Regions from separate parts of the Homo sapiens genome. Here region 2 is linked to region 1. The links come from fine-mapping of genetic effects on gene expression. A gene starts in region 1. The other region holds a variant in brackets. All regions are shown on one strand. Distances are between the middles of the regions.

Region 1 (5,371 bases):
GCCACTGTCCCCTCTGTCTCCCAGCCTCCCTTCCCACGTCCCACCCACCCCACAGCCTCAGCTCACCAAAGTACTCCCCGCTGGGCGGGTGGTTCATGTCGTGAACCAGCTTCTTCGTCAGCCTATCCAGCTCATCCTCTGGAGGCTGGCTCAGGGGCACCTGGAAGGTGGGAATCGGGCTCGGTCCTACTCTAGCTCCTGATGCTGTAATACCAGGGCCCTCAGCCGCCAGGCCATGGCCTGTTAGGAACTGGGCCACACAGCAGGAGCTGAGCAATGGGCAAGCAAAGCTTCATCTGTATTTACAGCTGCTCCCCATCACTTGCATTACCGCCTGAGCTCCACCTCCTGTCAGATCAGCAGCGGCGTTAGATTCTCATAGGAGCATGAACCCTATTGTGAACTGTGTGTTCGAAGGATGTAGGTTGCAAGCTCCTTATGAGAATCTAATGCCTGATGATCTGTCACTGTCTCCCATCACCCCCAGATGGGACTGTCCAGTTGCAGGAAAACAAGCTCAGGGCTCCCACTGATCCTACATGATGGTGAATTGTATAATTGTTTCGGTATATATTACATTGTAATATACATTGTAATATATACCGAAACAATTATATATACTATATATTCTATTATTATTATAACAGAAATAAAGTGCACAATGAATGTAATGTGCTTGAATCATCCTGAAACCATCCCCCTCCCACCCCCTCCCATCCCCCTCCCCAGTCCATGGAAAAATTGTTTTCCCCAAAACTGGTCCCTGGTGCCAAAAAGATTGGGGACTGCTATAATGTCTCTGAAGGTGGCCAGGCAGTTCCAGCTAGAAAGCTCATCTGAGAACATCTCAGCCCAGGGGCCCGTAGGCAGTTCTTTTTTTTTTTTTTTTTTTTTTTTGAGACAGAGTTTTGCTCTTGTTGCCCAGGTTGGAGAGCAGTGGTGCGATCTCGGCTCACCGCAACCTCCACCTCCCAGGTTCAAGTGATTCTCCTGCCTCAACCTCCCGAGTAGCTGGGATTACAGGCATGTGCCACCATGCCTGGCTAATTTTGTATTTTTAGTAGAGACGAGGTTTCTCCATGTTGGTCAGTGTGGTCTCGAACTCGTGACCTCAGGTGATCCACCCACCTCAGCCTCCCAAAGTGCTGGGATTACAGGCATGAGCCACCGCGCTCAGCCCCAATGGGCAGTTCTATCCTGCTCCCCCGCACTGCCCTGCCCTTACCTATTCCACGTCCCAGACCTCTGACTCTGCTCCAAAACCAGCCCCTTGGCCAGGCGCGGTGGCTCAGGCCTGCAATCCCAGCACTTTGGGAGGCTGAGGCAGGCGGATCACCTGAGGTCGGGAGTTCGAGACCAGCCTGGCCAACAAACTGGGGTTTTAGTGAAACCCCGTCTGTACTAAAAATACAAAAATTAACCAAGCGTGGCAGCGTGTGCCTGTAATCCAGTTATTCAGGAGGCTGAGGCAGGAGAATCACTTGAACCCGGGAGGCAGAGGTTGCAGTGAGCCAAGATGGCACCACTGCACCCCAGCCTGGGCAAACAAGAGCAAAACTCTGTCTCAAAAAACAAAAAAGCCCCCTAAAACACCACCAGCCACCCCACCCAGTCGGTGTCCCATTGTCTGTAGGGCCTGAAATCCCAGTTCCCCAGGGCTCACCTGGGGCCCGTGCTCGCCTCCTCTTCCTCTTCCTGCAGGGCCAGAGACCCCAGCAGCTTCCTCTTTGGCCCCTGGCCCTGGCTCTCTCTGGCTCCTATAGCCAGGCCCCCAGACTTCACCTCGGCCTGGGAGAGGAAAGTGGGGGCCCGGGAGGGGCCCAGAGGCCTGAGAGGCTCCCCGCCTGGGTGGGCCGCAGCCCCTCACTGGCTGTGCCACCTTCACTTGCACGGGGAAGGCTGGGCCAGCCGGGGTGCTGGCGGTAGTGTAAGAGGCTGGAGTGGGGCCCCCATAGGGAGACGCTGGGAGCGGCGAGGCTGGATTTGGCTTCAGGGAGCCCGTGCGGTAGGCAGGAGGTGGCGGGGGCTCATATGCCTGAGGAGAAACGCAGGCCAGAAGTCGTAAGCAAGGACCCCACTCCAAGACCCACATTTGTGGAAATGACCCTGGCTGTGGGGAAGCACAGGCTTTTTGCATTTGACAAGGTCCCGTCCTCAAGTGGCTGACATGTTGGTACTTGCAGCCACGCTTCCTCCATGCTGGGGTGCACATTACACACATGGGGGATCGATCAGGCTGGGTCTGAGAGTCCAGAGAAGGGGGCAGGGTGCTGACGGGGAGGAGGGGCAGAGTCACCTGTCGGTCTGGTCGCCGTGACGCATGACCCCGACCCCCATTCAGCTCGGCCAGCGTGCTGCTCAGCAAGTCTATCTCGGCGTCCAGGCTTCCAGGGCGAAGGCCCCCCCTGTCTGCAGGGAGCCCCTGAGGATGGAGCCAGGGCAGGAAGAATGCAAATCACCATAGGCCTTCTCCTGTCCTGGGTCCCTCAGACTCGGTTCTGGGGGATCCCACATGTCCCACCCCACGATCCCGGGTCTCACCTGCGTGTGCTGGAGTACTCCATGGGACCCCACCCACGCCGGCCCCCGATCCTCCGGTCCCCCTGGGGCCTGGTAACACTGCTCAGATGGAAGGGGGCAAAAATTGACCCTGGGGTGGGGCTGGAGTGCTGGGTTGAGGGAAGAGAAATCAAAGGTGGGGTGGCGGAGGACAGGAGGGGTGTATATTTGAGGAGCCACCCTCTCCGCCTCTCGTTACCTCCTCCCCCAAATCTAGGGTCCCAAGAGAGCGCAGGCGGCTGTTCCCCCCGCCTCGGCTTGGGGAAGGGGCAGGAGGAAGCAGCCAGGGCGGGAGGCTGGAGCGGTAGGACAGAGGTGAGCGCCACAGCTGGGTGGCTCTTCTGTCTCACAAGGGCTGCCTTACCTGCTCCGTGGGCCGGTGGTGGCCCCGGGGTGCCGCGGGGGATCGCCCTCCCCTGAGGGGCTCTGGCGGGCTCCGGCTGCTTCGGGGGCAGCCAGGTGGGCCCCGACATGGCCTGGAAAGGGGGACTCCAGACAGCGGTCTTGAAGCCCCGAGCCTCTGGCCTTCACCCCCTCTTCCGTCCCGCACCTCGTTTGGGACTCCAGAAAAGAAAACTTTTTCTGGCTTTTTTTTTTCCTCTTCCTCCCTAATTTTGGGGACGACCACGCCTCCGATGACGTCACCACATTCCTGGGGGAGGGTCACGTGGCCCCCTAGGCCCTAAACTGCCATTTCTCCCTGAGTCAGCCCCCTCCTGCCGAGAGGGGAGGGCTCTCCGGGGGATCCCGAGTCACTGGGGGTTGCGGGCAGCTGGGGATGGGAGGTGCGGGCCCGAGCCAGCCTCCAAGTCCACGGATGCGTCCGGGCCCCGCACCCCAGCCCTGCACGTGGCAGCCTCGCGGCGGGAGGCTGAAGGCTCCGATCTCCACCCCTCTGCAGAGCTCTCCATTCCCACCCCCTCCCTCTCAGCTACCCACCAGCACTGCTCAGCCAGCCTGTAGTGTTTTGGTCTTTTATTCATGGTCAGCAGAGTTAGAAAAATAAAACAGAACGAAAACATCACCACCCCAGTGGGCCGGTGAGTCTGGCCAAAATGGGGAAACTGAGGTAGCCCAGAGTCACAGAGGAGGCCTGGCCCCTAGCATCAAGGCACCAGTGAAGGGAGGCTGCGGACTCCCTCCCCTGCACGGTGGGGACAGCCACCCAGAGTTAGTGTGCTGGGGTCCCTCTGCCAAAGGAGGTGGGCGTGATGCCCAAGCCCAGGATCCCCTTCAAACCTCCCCTGGGCTCCACGTCCCAAGGGCAGGGCCACGGGCCACAGTGGCCTCCTCTTCCTCCTCCTCCAAGGATCAGGATAGGCCGCCTGCCTGGGCCCTCTCTACCTAGCCCTGGAGGCAGGGGCATCACAGATCAGTGCAGGTGACTGGAGTGACCCCATGAACCAGCAGCGTGGGGCCCAGGTCTCGGGTTAGAGTCTCCAGTAGCGCCAGGTAGCGGGGGTATCGGGCGGGATCGGCTGGCGGCCGAGGCAAGTACAGGAAGGTGAGGGCTGTGATGGGGCCCTCAGCATCCCCACCCTCCGGCCCACCCGGCCCTCCTCCTGTGCCGCGCCCCTGCTGGGCCCGAACCAGGGCGTTGGCGCTGCGTGCCAGGGCCTCTGCCTCTGCGTCTCCCCGCCCACTGTTCACAAAGTCCCCTTCCTCCTCCGCCTCGGGTTCCCCAGCCCCGGCCCCCTCGCCCCACACCACCTCCTGCACCTCAGCCCGGATCCTCAGTTGGCTCAGCAGTGCCCGCAGCCGCCCCTCGGCCGCCCCAGGCGCCTCCCGAGGCCCCAGGCACAGGAAGATCCGGAGCCGGGCGCTATGCCAAGCGGGCACCATGCCCAAGATGGTTGCCATCTGCAGCAGGAAGAGGCCGCAGACATCCACATAGCCGGGCCCACCCCGGGGCCGCAGCAGGTTGAGGGGCCACACGTCCACATGGTGCAGCTGAGAGGTGCCCCCAGACCCCCGGCTCAGCCGCTCAGGGGGCAAGGCCCCGCTGGCCCGGGCCAGCACCACATTCTTGTTCATCTTGAGGGCGTCGGCCACCGTGGCCACATAGTCCTGGGGATTGAGGGCCCGGGGGCTCCCAGGAGCCCGGGGAGGAGGGAACAGGGTGCTCAGAGCTGGGGAACTGCCCTCCCTGGTGCTGTCTGCAGGCTCAGAGAAAGCCGGGTCCGTCAGGAAATGGTCCTGCGGTGGAGCGTCATCGTAGAAACCTAGGACCAACGTGTTGGGCTTCATGCCACCTGGGGGCAGAGCGGGGAAGGCAGGAACAGACAGGAGTCAGGCTCACAGGCTAAGTTTACACCACGCTCCCACACACTGACAGCAAGGTGCGTCAGCCATAGGTATGACATTCCCACTGTGTACGGGCTCTTACGGCAACATTCTGCATATTTGCATAAAGACTTTTCATTTTTCCTAAACACTTTCACATGCATTTATTTTATTATCTCAGTGACTAATCTCCTCCACTTAAACAGGCAAAGTTCGCCTTAGGATTCTTGCCACTAATGAGCACTCCAATTCTATGGAGAGGAGGATGCTGTCCACTCCCGGCTTCTAGCGGGGCATCTGTTTCACGGCAGGGGATGCGAGTTTGACTCTGTTGTGCAAACCAGACACCCTGATCAGCCAAGCTCATGACCTGAATCCCCAGGGTAATAGCGTCCCAGACTCTGCAATGGGAAGATGAAAAAATGGACCAGGCAGGGCACCGTGGCTCACACCTGTAATCGCAGCATCTTGGGAAGCTGAGGCACGTTGATCACCTGAGATCAGGAGTTTGAGACCAGCCTGGCCAATA
Region 2 (5,371 bases), 120 kb after region 1:
GGGGTACTTGGAGCATGTGGAGACATCACCAAGGCTGCCAGCCCAGTGGCTGTGGGGCTGGGATGGGGTGGCCTCAGGGCTGTGAGCTTCTCTGTGGGAATGGTGGGTTTTTCTGTGGGGATGGTGGGTTTTTCCGTGGGGATGGTAAGTTTTTCCGTGGGGATGGTGGGTTTTTCCGTGGAGATGGTGGGTTTTTCTGTGGGGATGGTGAGTTTTTCTGGGGAGATGGTGGGTTTTTCTGTGGGGATGGTGAGTTTTTCTGTGGAGATGGTAGTCTCTTCAGTGGGGATGGTGGGTTTTTCCGTGGGGATGGTGGGTTTTTCCGTGGAGATGGTGGGTTTTTCTGGGGAGATGGTGGGTTTTTCTGTGGGGATGGTGAGTTTTTCTGTGGAGATGGTAGTCTCTTCAATGGGGATGGTGGGTTTTTCCGTGGGGATGGTGAGTTTTTCCGTGGGGATGGTGAGTTTTTCTGGGGAGATGGTGGGTTTTTCTGTGGGGATGGTGGGTTTTTCTGTGGAGATGGTGGGTTTTTCCATGGGGATGGTGAGTTTTTCTGTAGAGATGGTAGTCTCTTCAACAGAGGTGGTGGTTTCTTCAGTGGGGAGAGTGGGTTTTTCCATGGGGATGCTGGGTTTTTCTGTGGAGATGGTGGTCTCCTCAGTGGGGGTGGTGGGCTCTTCTGTGGAGATGGTGGGTTTTTCTGTGGGAATGGTGGGTTTTTCTGTGGGGATGGTGGGTTTTTCTGTGGGGATGGTGAGTTTTTCTGGGGAGATGGTGGGTTTTTCTGTGGGGGTGGTGGGTTTTTCTGGGGAGATGGTGGGTTTTTCTGTGGGGATGGTGGGTTTTTCTGTGGGGGTGGTGGGTTTTTCTGGGGAGATGGTGGATTTTTCTGTGGGGATGGTGGGTTTTTCTGTGGGGATGGTGGGTTTTTCTGGGGAGATGGTGGGTTTTTCTGTGGAGATGATAGTCTCTTCCATGGAGATGGTGGGTTTTTCCGTGGGGATGCTGGGTTTTTCTGTAGGGATGCTGGGTTTTTCTGTAGGGATGACAGGCTCTTCCATGGAGGTGGTGGTCTCCTCAGTGGGGGTGGTGGGCTCTTCTGTGGGGACGGTGGGTTTTTCTGTGGAAATGGTGGGTTTTTCTGAGGGAATGGTGGGTTTTTCTGAGGGAATGGTGGGTTTTTCTGTGAGGATGGTGGGTTTTTCTGAGGGAATGGTGGGTTTTTCTGAGGGCATGTTGGGTTTTTCTGAAGGAATGGTGGGTTTTTCTGTGGAGATGGTGGGTTTTTCTGTGGGAATGGTGGGCTTTTCTTTGGGGACTGTGGGCTTTTCTGTGGTGACACTGGGTTTTTCTATGGAAACTGTAGGTTTCTTGGTGGAGATTGTAGGGTTTTCTGTGAGGCCAGTGGTTTCAGAAGGGCCAGTGGAAGAAACTGGAGATACGGGAGGAAGCTCTGGTAGCACTTTTACTGCAAAGAAAAATAAGAATCCCTGGAGTTTAGTCAAAACCATACCACCACCCTCTTTACTGCCATCTAACTGGAGTGGGCTCCCATGGGTGGCTTATTCACACCTCTCTTTCTACTCCCAAACCCCAACCTTCATCCACTCAACGAACACTAATATATGTCAGATATTATGCCAGAAATGAATAGGATATGGGTCCAGCCTTCAAGACTGCAGAGGAAGGAGTTCTGGATCCAGCCCCCAAAATCCATGGTATCGAAGCCACATTCACCCAGGCAAACATCTTGAAGTGCAGGGGAAGGAGAGGTGTGTTGAAGATGGAAAACAAAGCCAGCTGGGTGAGAATTCGGGCTCCAGGGAGGACTCACATTTTAAGCAGTTCATAGAGAGAACTCCAGGGAACCTCAGGGCACCGCCCCCTTCCTGGAGCCTGGGCTTTGGTCTTACCTGGACAAGTCCCAGGATTGATCAAGATGAAACCCATAGCAACCACAGAGGCCGTGTTGCTTCCCTGGATGCCCTTGAAAATAAGCTAAAGGCGACAAGGGAGAGAGACGGAGAGAGAAACAAAAATGAATCTCCAGCAACTCTGTGATTCCACTGGGCATAGAATCTGTTCTCTGCCAAAATGTCGCCTTGTTCCAGCCTCAACAGTCCAGCCCCATCCCGGCCCCTTTCTCACTTTCTGTAACACGAAGTTCCCCTTTTCTCGGCTCTCTTTCCAGCTTTCCACCTCTTCAGCACTGGTGGCGCCCCCAGATCCCAGGCATTGGCCCTCTCACCTCACACAGACAGGACCCCCGCCTCCGTCTCTCACCTGCATGGGCTGTTGGTGTCCTGAGGGGACGGTGACGGAGGTGTTCTGCCAGTAAGGGCGCTGAGACCCCACGCGTTTCCAGAGAGGAATCGGGGGACTCCCCGCAGGACTTCCCAGGAGGAGTTCGAGCATAGTACCCTCCCCAAGGCCATACATGTGGTATGCGAACTCCACGCAGATGTCACCTGGGGCGCAGAAGGGCCGGCTCACCAGTCTGACTGACTGGCCTGCCTGGGAGAACTCGTCAGCCTCAAGGTAGATATAGTGACCCCCTAGGCAAAGGAAGGGAACAGGCAAGGTAAGAAGCCTGCACAGGACATGCCAACTGCTGCTTTAGCAAAGCTTTGCTTTCTGAACGGGAATCTGAGCAAACACTCAAATTTCCCAGGT[C/T]GTAGCATTATTTTTTCTGCTCATTTTAGACATCTAACTAAAGAAGGTGGGATCACAAAGAAAGGGAAAAGCGGCCAGGCACGGTGGCTCATGCCTGTAATCCCAGCACTTTGGGAGGCCGAGGCTGGCGGATCACGAGGTCAAGAGATCAAGGCCATCCTGGCCAACATGGTGAAACCCCGTCTCCACTAAAAATACAAAAATTAGCTGGGCGTGGTGGCCCGTGCCTGGAGTCCCAGCTACTCGGGAGTCTGAGGCAGGAGAATTGCTTGAACTCCGGAGGTGGAGGTTGCAGTGAGCCAAGATCACGTCACTGCACTCCAGCCTGGCAACAGAGCAAGACTCCATCTCAAAAAAGAAAAAAAGGGAATAACAAACCAGCAACCTAGATTACATTCATTAATGTCGTGTGTGTGTGTGTGTGTGTGTGTGTGTGTGTGTGTGTGTTGTTTTTTTGAGATGGAGTCTCGCTCTGTTGCCCAGGCTGGAGTGCAGTGACACGATCTCAGCTCACTACAACCTCCACCTCCCAGGTTCAAGCGATTGTCCTGCCTCAGCCTCCCAAGTAGCTGGGATTACAGGTGTGTACCACCATGTCTGGCTAATTTTTGTGTTTTTAGTAGAGGTGGGGTTTCACCATGTTGGCCAGGCTAGTCTTGAACTTTCGGCCTCAAGTGATCCACCCGTCTCAGCCTCCCAAAGCATTGGGATTACAGGTGTGAGCCACTGCACCCCACCCTCATTATTGTCTTTTTAAAAAATTATTTCTTTATATATATATATGTGTGTGTGTGTATATATATATGTGTGTATATATATGTGTGTGTGTGTATATATATATATATATATATATATTTTTTTTTTTTTGAGACGGAGTCTCACTCTGTCACCCAGGCTGGAGTACAATGGCGTGATCTCGGCTCACTGCAAGCTCTGCCTCCCGGGCTCACGCCATTCTCCTGCCTCAGCCTCCCGAGTAGCTGGGACTACAGGCGCCCACCACCATGCCTGGCTAATTTTTTGTGTTTTTAGTAGGGACGGGGTTTCACCGTGTTAGCCAGGATGGTCTCGATCTCCTGACCTTGTGATCCGCCCTCCTTGGCCTCCCAAAGTGCTGGGATTACAGGTGTGAGCCACTGCGCCCAGCCTCTTTTTATATATTTTTAAGACAGAATCTTACTCTGTTGCCCCGGATGGAGTGCAGTGGTGCGATCTCAGCTCACTGCAGTCTCCACCTCCTGGGGTCAGGCAGTTCTCCTGCCTCAGCCTCCTGAGTAGCTGGGACTACAGGTGCACGCCACCACTCCCGGCTAATTTTTACATTTTTTTTAGTGGAGTCAGGGTTTCACTATGTTGCCCAGCTGGTCTCGAACTCCTGACCTCAAGTGATCCACCTGCCTCGGCCTCCCAAAGTGCTGGAATTAAAGGCGTGAGCCACCATGCCTGGCCTATTTTTTTATTTTTAATTTTTAGAGACAAGGTCTTGCTCTGTTGCCCAGGCTGGAGTGCACTGGTTCAATCATAGCTCACTGCAGCCTTGACTTCTGAGCTGAAGCGATCCTCCCACATCAGCCTCGCAAGTAGGTGGGACCACAAGCACACACCACCACATCTAGCTAATTAAAAAAAAATTTTTTTTTCTAGAGATGGGGTTCTCACTATGTTGCCCAGGCTGAGCTCAGACTCCTGGGCTCAAGCAATCTTCCCGTCTCGGCCTCTCAAAGTGCTGGAATTGCAGGCATGAGCCACTCATAAACGTCTAGACTGAAAATGAGGTGGTGGGTTTTGAAGCTTTGGGCTCCATGAAGTGAGATGCCTGGGTTTTCTCAGGATTTCAGTGACCCCCCAGCCCTGAGAATCTTTAAGTTACTCTGCTATCTCCACAATTCCAGTACCATGGAAACTTCCGAAAAAACACCTGTGGACTGATCTTCCCACTGCCTGAAACAACGTCTCCCATCAGTCACAGCAGCCAGCCTGCTACCTGGGAGCAGACTGAGTGATTTCTTGGCGTGAGCGCTCCTCAATCTCCTCACCTGCATTAGGGAAACCTCCCGCAGGGCCCATGCCATGGACGGGTCCATTTTTATGTCCGAGGGCCCAGTGTCCACCATCCCCGGAAGTCTGGACCCAGTCACAGAAGGGATGGGCGTTGTCTTCAAAGTCACACTGAGGAAAACCCTCTGGGGGATCAAAATAGGATATTTGAGCAAGTTGAGTGACGCTCTCCAGCCCTCCCCCAGCCCACCCCGGATTCTGAGAGATCCGGGCCTCTCAGGGCCTGCTCTCACCCCCACAAGGAGCAATGCTGGTTGCATCAACTGCCACAGCTGGCTCTGGGGTCTTTCCAAAAACGCCTACCACGGCAAACTGGAGAGAAAGGGAGATGGAGCAGGAGTGAGCACACAGCCCACACCCCCAAGCCCCTGATCTAACTCGACTCCATTCCAGGACCCAGAATCCCTACTCCCTGTGCCCAGACCCTCAATTCAGTTCTTTCTTTCTTTTTTTTTTTTTTTCAGAGTCTTGCTCTATTGCCCAGGCTGGAGTACAGTGGTGTGATCATAGCTCACTGCAGCCTTGACCTCCAGGGCTCAAGTGATCCTCCCACCTCAGGCTCCCTAGTAGCTGGGACTACAGGCACACATCACTGTGCCCGCCTAATTTTTGTATTTTTTTGTAGAGATGGGGTCTTTCT

Evidence for each region. PIP is the estimated chance that this variant, and not a neighbour inherited with it, causes the effect.
Region 2: its variant is fine-mapped to the expression of TRIP6 in whole blood (INTERVAL, PIP 0.96).

What each region holds. Positions count from the first base shown.
Region 1 is chr7:100,865,159-100,870,529 of GRCh38, reverse strand. TRIP6 (thyroid hormone receptor interactor 6) reads right to left here and starts at 3,143. Exons shown (of 9, transcript NM_003302.3): 1 at 2,924-3,143; 2 at 2,542-2,669; 3 at 2,297-2,422; 4 at 1,664-2,035; 5 at 67-160. The coding sequence starts at 3,032. It overlaps SLC12A9 (solute carrier family 12 member 9), which reads right to left. Exons shown (of 14, transcript NM_020246.4): 14 at 3,520-4,811. The coding sequence ends at 3,925. It overlaps MIR6875 (microRNA 6875), which reads right to left and starts at 2,494; the gene lies at 2,423-2,494. RefSeq lists an enhancer at 2,356-2,455 and silencers at 2,896-3,045, 3,406-3,495.
Region 2 is chr7:100,747,809-100,753,179 of GRCh38, reverse strand. It overlaps ZAN (zonadhesin), which reads right to left. Exons shown (of 48, transcript NM_003386.3): 10 at 4,965-5,043; 11 at 4,710-4,856; 12 at 2,284-2,555; 13 at 1,914-1,998; 14 at 1-1,468. Among named protein-coding and RNA genes, the nearest start is that of ZAN, 17 kb to the right of the region's middle. The variant C/T (reference allele first, on the strand shown) is at 2,674.